Homo sapiens: one gene and its partner. The protein of the gene in region 1 interacts with the protein of each later gene in a pairwise test. Each region holds a gene or a part of one and is shown on either strand. Other genes may lie near its edges. The genes, in order: MAP2K5 and TERT.

Evidence for each region.
Region 2: the proteins of MAP2K5 (region 1) and TERT come close enough for resonance energy transfer, tested with the Homo sapiens proteins (one large-scale study listed by BioGRID).

The regions. Positions count from the first base shown.
Region 1 is NC_000015.10:67,580,487-67,584,294, forward strand, and holds part of MAP2K5 (dual specificity mitogen-activated protein kinase kinase 5), read left to right. Parts: intron 1-267; coding exon 268-337; intron 338-3,808. UniProt on the Homo sapiens protein: Acts as a scaffold for the formation of a ternary MAP3K2/MAP3K3-MAP3K5-MAPK7 signaling complex.
Region 2 is NC_000005.10:1,288,401-1,292,208, reverse strand, and holds part of TERT (telomerase reverse transcriptase), read left to right. Parts: intron 1-3,808. UniProt on the Homo sapiens protein: Telomerase is a ribonucleoprotein enzyme essential for the replication of chromosome termini in most eukaryotes. Active in progenitor and cancer cells. Inactive, or very low activity, in normal somatic cells.

The DNA of each region.
Region 1 (3,808 bases):
TTCAAATATTTCTTAAATACTAATATAAAGTCTTAATCAACACTTTTACTCTTAAAGATAAATGCCAGGGTGAAGGCTAACACACTGGACTTTCAATCCTAAATATTCACTATAGTCATTTTGATGTGCCAGTAGGGGAAAAGTATTCTCAAGGCTGATATGTATATACCAGCAATTTACAAAAGTACTGTGAATTAAACAACCCATAAGTGTCTGTTCCAGTATTCATACATTACTGAGTGATCTCTTTCTATAATCTCTTTGCAGTATTATTCCACAGTAATGGAACAGCAAGTAAATGGACAGTTAATAGAGCCTCTGCAGATATTTCCAAGAGGTAATGTTGAGCAAATTCTAATCAACAATGATTATTTCAGTAAACTGTTTCATCAACAGTTATGTTTCCAAAGGTTTAAATGCACATAACATGATGTTTAGCTCTTAATTCGAAAAACAAAAGAAGTATTCATTATCGTGGGGATTGCAGGCTATATTATAGTTATGGCAGATAAAATATCTAATTTACTAGAGTAAATTAAACTAACTAGATTGTTTTTTGTTTTTGAAGTACATACTTACATTAGCTTAAAGAACTCTTTTGGGGGTCCACATGGTTTCTAAAGCAAGGCAAATGAATGACTTTAATTCTGGATATTTATAAATTGTGGCTCATGATGGTGGCCAAAGCTGCTATTGAGGAGAAAGCTTTCAGTTAGCACAGAAGCGAAGATTTACTGAGGTGTTAGGAGAGAAATTTTGGTGGAATGTTTGGTATCTGGTTTTTTGAGGAGGTATTTTCTAAATAATTGAAATTCTTCATAAATGGAAATTTGATTATCTCCAAAAATATGAGCTGATGAGAGTAAGTTTCAGTGAATCACTTGGTCAGATAATTTTCTTTTTCCCTTTTAGGTTTGGCAGTACTATCCTTGTATCAGATATGATTGTTCAACCGTGTATAAATGTTCCCTCAAAATTTGAATAATGGTGAACAAGAACAGTTTAATTATATAAACCATTAAGTCTTTCACCCGTTATACATTGCCCCACTTGGAATCCATGTTTTCTAACTAATGGAACAGATAAGGAAATTCTCTAAGTAACCCTTCTAGAAATAACTTAATTGAAATAATTAAAAGTTAAACTTACCTTCGTTAACTGATACTGTACAAATAATCATGGTATGAGTTTTCCAATTAAACATTCTAGACTTTCATTACCTGTAACTCTCTGAAGTTTGAATGGCTCAATTAACCAGTAGGCTCCTATTTGCACTGATAAAGTCTCCAAAGGCAGCTGTCTTGGCCAACCCACAAGAAGATCTGGGTTCAAGAATAATACTGCTCTTCCAGCATATGTGTGGGCAGCAGAATCAGGAGTGCTTAGTATATTACTAGTAACTTATTGAAGTGCTAAGTAAGTACAGTTGGGCTATTTAAGGCCAGTGATAGTCCAAAACAAGGATTGTGATTAATCCACTTCTGTTGTACTTGAAGATTAAGCACCAAAACAGAAAAAAAGAAATGTTGCTATTTCTGTTTATTAGTCCAATGATTAGGATGTAGATGATTTCTTTTTTTTTTTTTTTTTTTTCGAGACAGAGTCTCGCTCTGCCACCAGGCTGGAGTGCAGTGGTGCAATCTCAGCTCACCGCAACCTCTGACTCCCTGGTTCAAGTGATTCTCCTGCCTCAGCCTCCTGAGTAGCTGGGATTACAGGCTCGTGTCACCACACCCAGCTAATTTTTGTATTTTTAGCAGAGACAGGGTTTTACCATGTTGGCCAGGATGGTCTTGATCTCCTGACCTCATGATCCACTCCCCTCGGCCTCCCAAAGTGCTGGGATTACAGGCGTGAGCCACCACGCCCAGCCAGGAGGCAGATTATTTCTTAATGTTTGCAGTGACTGGAGAATTTGGGCAAGTTTCAAAATTCTTTCTTCACAAGGAGTAGTATTTTACAAACTGAAAATTTCCATTAATTTCTCTATTGACATTATAGCTCTGCCATAGAAAACCCTAATTGCAGTATCCTGGAGAAATATACTTCCAGGCAGGGCACAGTGGTTCATGCCTGTAATCTCAGCACTTTGGGAAGCTGAGGCAGGTGGATTGCTTGAGCTCAAGAGTTTGAGACCAGCTTGGGCAACATGTCAAAACCCTGTCTCTACCAAAAAAATACAAAAATTAGCCGGGCGTGGTGCACACTCCTGTTGTCCCAGCTACTTGGTGGGCTGAGGTGGGAGGATGGCTTGAGCCCAAGAGGTTGAGGCTACAGTGAGCCATGTTTGTGCCACTGTACTCCAGCCTGAGTGACAGAGCAATACATTGTCTCAAAACACACACACACACACACACACACACACACACTTCCAATGTTGTGGGTCTTCATTTGTCTCTAAAAAATTTTTTTTAGTTATCTTCATCCAAATTCTTTCAAGTTTTGTTTGTTTTCTTTCCTTTTGTGAGCAGTCCTGTCATTCTCACTGTTCATCGCATTATGCTTCTTCCCATGATAATCACAACCATTTTTAGATGTCTGCTCTGTTAAGGCATTAATATTGCTTTACGCATCATCATCTGTAATCCTCCTGATAGTTCTGCCTATTAGGTATTACTGTTTCCAATTTATAGATGAGAATATTGAGATTCAGAGAGGTTAAGTAACTTCAGAGTCACACAGCTTATAAGTGCTTACTATGCCCTTTGAGTAAGAATTTCATTTAAATTATAATATGATTAAAATGGAAAGGCATATATATTAAAATATAATTAGAGTGTGCATGGGAGTAGTTTGGAGGGCTTGTTTTGGAGTGGAGAGGAGTATGTTATGGGGAGAGGATACTTAAAGGAGGAAATTATATGAGATGTCATTGTCATATGTAGTCTTAGCATAAAACCCACTAGGCTGCAATAAATTGTTAAACATAGTCTTTCTAAGCCAAATTTAAATATTTCAGAATATGAGACTGTCTTTTTATTTCTGTGTTTTTTTAATATGCTATGGTGTAATTGTTTCTAGTTTTTGGTAGTCTTTTGCTTTTTGCTACCTGTCTACATCGAATGTACATTTTATCATATGTAGATAAGTGAAATTATGCAAATTTACATAATCGACATGTAGACATACTGGGTATATTTCCTGTGTCTACCTAGTTGGTTAGAGGCCCTCAGATCTTAAATTTTATGGTTAGGCCCCATGTTAAAAAGAATCTTTAGACTGAACAAGTAGGAAGGATAGGAGAAAATGATTGTTTCCTTATTTATTTATTTATTTATTTATTTTGGAGACAGAGTCTCACTCTATCACCCAGGCTGGAGTGCAGTGTGTGCTCACTGCAGCCTTTATGTCCCCAGGCTGGAGCAGTTCTCTCGCCTCAGCTCCTGAGTAGCTGGGGCTACAGGCATGTGCCACCACGCTGGGCATTTTTTTTTAATTTTTTAATAGCGACAAGGTATCACAGTGTTGCCCAGGCTGGTGTCAAACTCCTGAGCTCAAGCAATCCTCCCACCACCACTTCTCCAAGTGCTGGGATGAAAGGCATGAGCCACCATGCCTGGCCATAATTCTGATGTAATAACATGTTCTCCTCATTCCAAGTAGCACAGTTGCCTTGGATAGTAACTCCCAGGTCATGGCTAAGTCCTCTACATTGTTAAAAGATATGTTAAATATTAATAAGTGTGAACATTGACTAGCTTTATAGTAATTCCTGACCCGATAACTTTAGGAAATATGAGGTTACTGGGTTTTTTGACTGCTGTTTACATCTCCAGTTATAAAAGTTTGAGAAGTCAATTGAGGAGTG
Region 2 (3,808 bases), on another chromosome or scaffold:
CACAAACTCCCAAGACATGTAAGACTTCCGGCCATGCAGACAAGGAGGGTGACCTTCTTGGGGCTCTTTTTTTTCTTTTTTTCTTTTTATGGTGGCAAAAGTCATATAACATGAGATTGGCACTCCTAACACCGTTTTCTGTGTACAGTGCAGAATTGCTAACTCGGCGGTGTTTACAGCAGGTTGCTTGAAATGCTGCGTCTTGCGTGACTGGAAGTCCCTACCCATCGAACGGCAGCTGCCTCACACCTGCTGCGGCTCAGGTGGACCACGCCGAGTCAGATAAGCGTCATGCAACCCAGTTTTGCTTTTTGTGCTCCAGCTTCCTTCGTTGAGGAGAGTTTGAGTTCTCTGATCAGGACTCTGCCTGTCATTGCTGTTCTCTGACTTCAGATGAGGTCACAATCTGCCCCTGGCTTATGCAGGGAGTGAGGCGTGGTCCCCGGGTGTCCCTGTCACGTGCAGGGTGAGTGAGGCGTTGCCCCCAGGTGTCCCTGTCACGTGTAGGGTGAGTGAGGCGCGGCCCCCGGGTGTCCCTGTCCCGTGCAGCGTGATTGAGGTGTGGCCCCCGGGTGTCCCTGTCCCGTGCAGGGTGAGTGAGGCACTGTCCCCGGGTGTCCCTGTCACGTGCAGGGTGAGTGAGGCGCGGTCCCCGGGTGTCCCTGTCACGTGTAGGGTGAGTGAGGCACTGTCCCCGGGTGTCCCTCTCAGGTGTAGGGTGAGTGAGGCGCCGTCCCCGGGTGTCCCTGTCACGTGTAGGGTGAGTGAGGCGTGGTCCCCGGGTGTCCCTGTCCCGTGCAGGGTGAGTGAGGCGCTGTCCCCGGGTGTCCCTGTCACGTGCAGGGTGAGTGAGGCGCGGTCCCCGGGTGTCCCTGTCACGTGTAGGGTGAGTGAGGCACCGTCCCTGGGTGTCCCTCCCAGGTGTAGGGTGAGTGAGGCGCTGTCCCCGGGTGTCCCTCTCAGGTGTAGGGTGAGTGAGGCGCGGCCCCAGGTGTCCCTGTCACGTGTAGGGTGAGTGAGGCACCGTCCCTGGGTGTCCCTCCCAGGTATAGGGTGAGTGAGGCACTGTCCCCGGGTGTCCCTGTCACGTGCAGGGTGAGTGAGGCGCGGTCCCCAGGTGTCCCTGTCACGTGTAGGGTGAGTGAGGCACTGTCCCCGGGTGTCCCTGTCCCGTGCAGGGTGAGTGAGGCGCGGTCCCCAGGTGTCCCTGTCCCGTGCAGGGTGAGTGAGGCGCCGTCCCCGGGTGTCCCTGTCACGTGCAGGGTGAGTGAGGCACGGCCCCCGGGTGTCCCTGTCACGTGCAGGGTGAGTGAGGCGCGGCCCCCGGGTGTCCCTGTCACGTGCAGGGTGAGTGAGGCGCGGCCCCCGGGTGTCCCTGTCACGTGCAGGGTGAGTGAGGCGCGGTCCCCGGGTGTCCCTGTCACGTGCAGGGTGAGTGAGGCGCGGTCCCCGGGTGTCCCTGTCACGTGCAGGGTGAGTGAGGCGCGGTCCCCGGGTGTCCCTGTCACGTGCAGGGTGAGTGAGGCACGGTCCCCGGGTGTCCCTGTCCCGTGTAGGGTGAGTGAGGCACTGTCCCCGGGTGTCCCTGTCACGTTCAGGGTGAGTGAGGCGCGGTCCCCGGGTGTCCCTGTCACGTGTAGGGTGAGTGAGGCACCGTCCCCGGGTGTCCCTGTCACGTGCAGGGTGAGTGAGGCGCTGTCCCCGGGTGTCCCTGTCACGTGCAGGGTGATTGACGCGAGGCCCCCGGGTGTCCCTGTCACGTGCAGGGTGAGTGAGGCGCCGTCCCCGCGTGTCCCTGTCACGTGCAGGGTGAGTGAGGCGCCGTCCCCGGGTGTCCCTGTCACGTGTAGGGTGAGTGAGGTGCCGTCCCCGGGTGTCCCTGTCACGTGTAGGGTGAGTGAGGCGCCGTCCCCGGGTGTCCCTGTCACGTTCAGGGTGAGTGAGGCACGGCCCCCGGGTGTCCCTGTCACGTGTAGGGTGAGTGAGGCGCGGTCCCCGGGTGTCACTGTCACGTGTAGGGTGAGTGAGGCACTGTCCCCGGGTGTCCCTGTCACGTGTAGGGTGAGTGAGGCGCGGCCCCCGGGTGTCCCTGTCACGTGCAGGGTGAGTGAGGCGCGGCCCCCGGGTGTCCCTGTCACGTGTAGGGTGAGTGAGGCGCGGCCCCCGGGTGTCCCTGTCACGTGCAGGGTGAGTGAGGCGCGGCCCCCGGGTGTCCCTGTCACGTGCAGGGTGAGTGAGGCGCGGCCCCCGGGTGTCCCTGTCACGTGCAGGGTGAGTGAGGCACGGCCCCCGGGTGTCCCTGTCACGTGCAGGGTGAGTGAGGCGCGGCCCCCGGGTGTCCCTGTCACTTGCAGGGTGAGTGAGGCACTGTCCCCGGGTGTCCCTGTCACGTTCAGGGTGAGTGAGGCGCGGTCCCCGGGTGTCCCTGTCACGTGTAGGGTGAATGAGGCACTGTCCCCGGGTGTCCCTGTCACGTGCAGGGTGAGTGAGGCGCCGTCCCCGGGTGTCCCTGTCACGTGCAGGGTGATTGACGCGAGGCCCCCGGGTGTCCCTGTCACGTGCAGGGTGAGTGAGGCGCCGTCCCCGCGTGTCCCTGTCACGTGCAGGGTGAGTGAGGCGCCGTCCCCGGGTGTCCCTGTCACGTGTAGGGTGAGTGAGGCGCCGTCCCCGGGTGTCCCTGTCACGTGTAGGGTGAGTGAGGCGCCGTCCCCGGGTGTCCCTGTCACGTGTAGGGTGAGTGAGGCGCCGTCCCCGGGTGTCCCTGTCACGTGTAGGGTGAGTGAGGCGCCGTCCCCGGGTGTCCCTGTCACGTGCAGGGTGAGTGAGGCCCCGTCCCCGGGTGTCCCTGTCACGTGTAGGGTGAGTGAGGCACTGTCCCCGGGTGTCTCTGTCACGTGTAGGGTGAGTGAGGCGCCGTCCCTGGGTGTCCCTCTCAGGTGTAGGGTGAGTGAGGCGCCATCCCCGGGTGTCCCTGTCACGTGTAGGGTGAGTGAGGCGCCGTCCCCGGGTGTCCCTGTCACGTGTAGGGTGAGTGAGTTGCGGCCCCCGGGTGTCCCTCTCAGGTGCAGGGTGAGTGAGGCGCTGTCCCTGGGTGTCCCTGTCTCGTGTAGGGTGAGTGAGGCTCTGTCCCCAGGTGTCCTTGGCGTTTGCTCACTTGAGCTTGCTCCTGAATGTTTGCTCTTTCTATAGCCACAGCTGCGCCGGTTGCCCATTGCCTGGGTAGATGGTGCAGGCGCAGTGCTGGTCCCCAAGCCTATCTTTTCTGATGCTCGGCTCTTCTTGGTCACCTCTCCGTTCCATTTTGCTACGGGGACACGGGACTGCAGGCTCTCGCCTCCCGCGTGCCAGGCACTGCAGCCACAGCTTCAGGTCCGCTTGCCTCTGTTGGGCCTGGCTTGCTCACCACGTGCCCGCCACATGCATGCTGCCAATACTCCTCTCCCAGCTTGTCTCATGCCGAGGCTGGACTCTGGGCTGCCTGTGTCTGCTGCCACGTGTTGCTGGAGACATCCCAGAAAGGGTTCTCTGTGCCCTGAAGGAAAGCAAGTCACCCCAGCCCCCTCACTTGTCCTGTTTTCTCCCAAGCTGCCCCTCTGCTTGGCCCCCTTGGGTGGGTGGCAACGCTTGTCACCTTATTCTGGGCACCTGCCGCTCATTGCTTAGGCTGGGCTCTGCCTCCAGTCGCCCCCTCACATGGATTGACGTCCAGCCACAGGTTGGAGTGTCTCTGTCTGTCTCCTGCTCTGAGACCCACGTGGAGGGCCGGTGTCTCCGCCAGCCTTCGTCAGACTTCCCTCTTGGGTCTTAG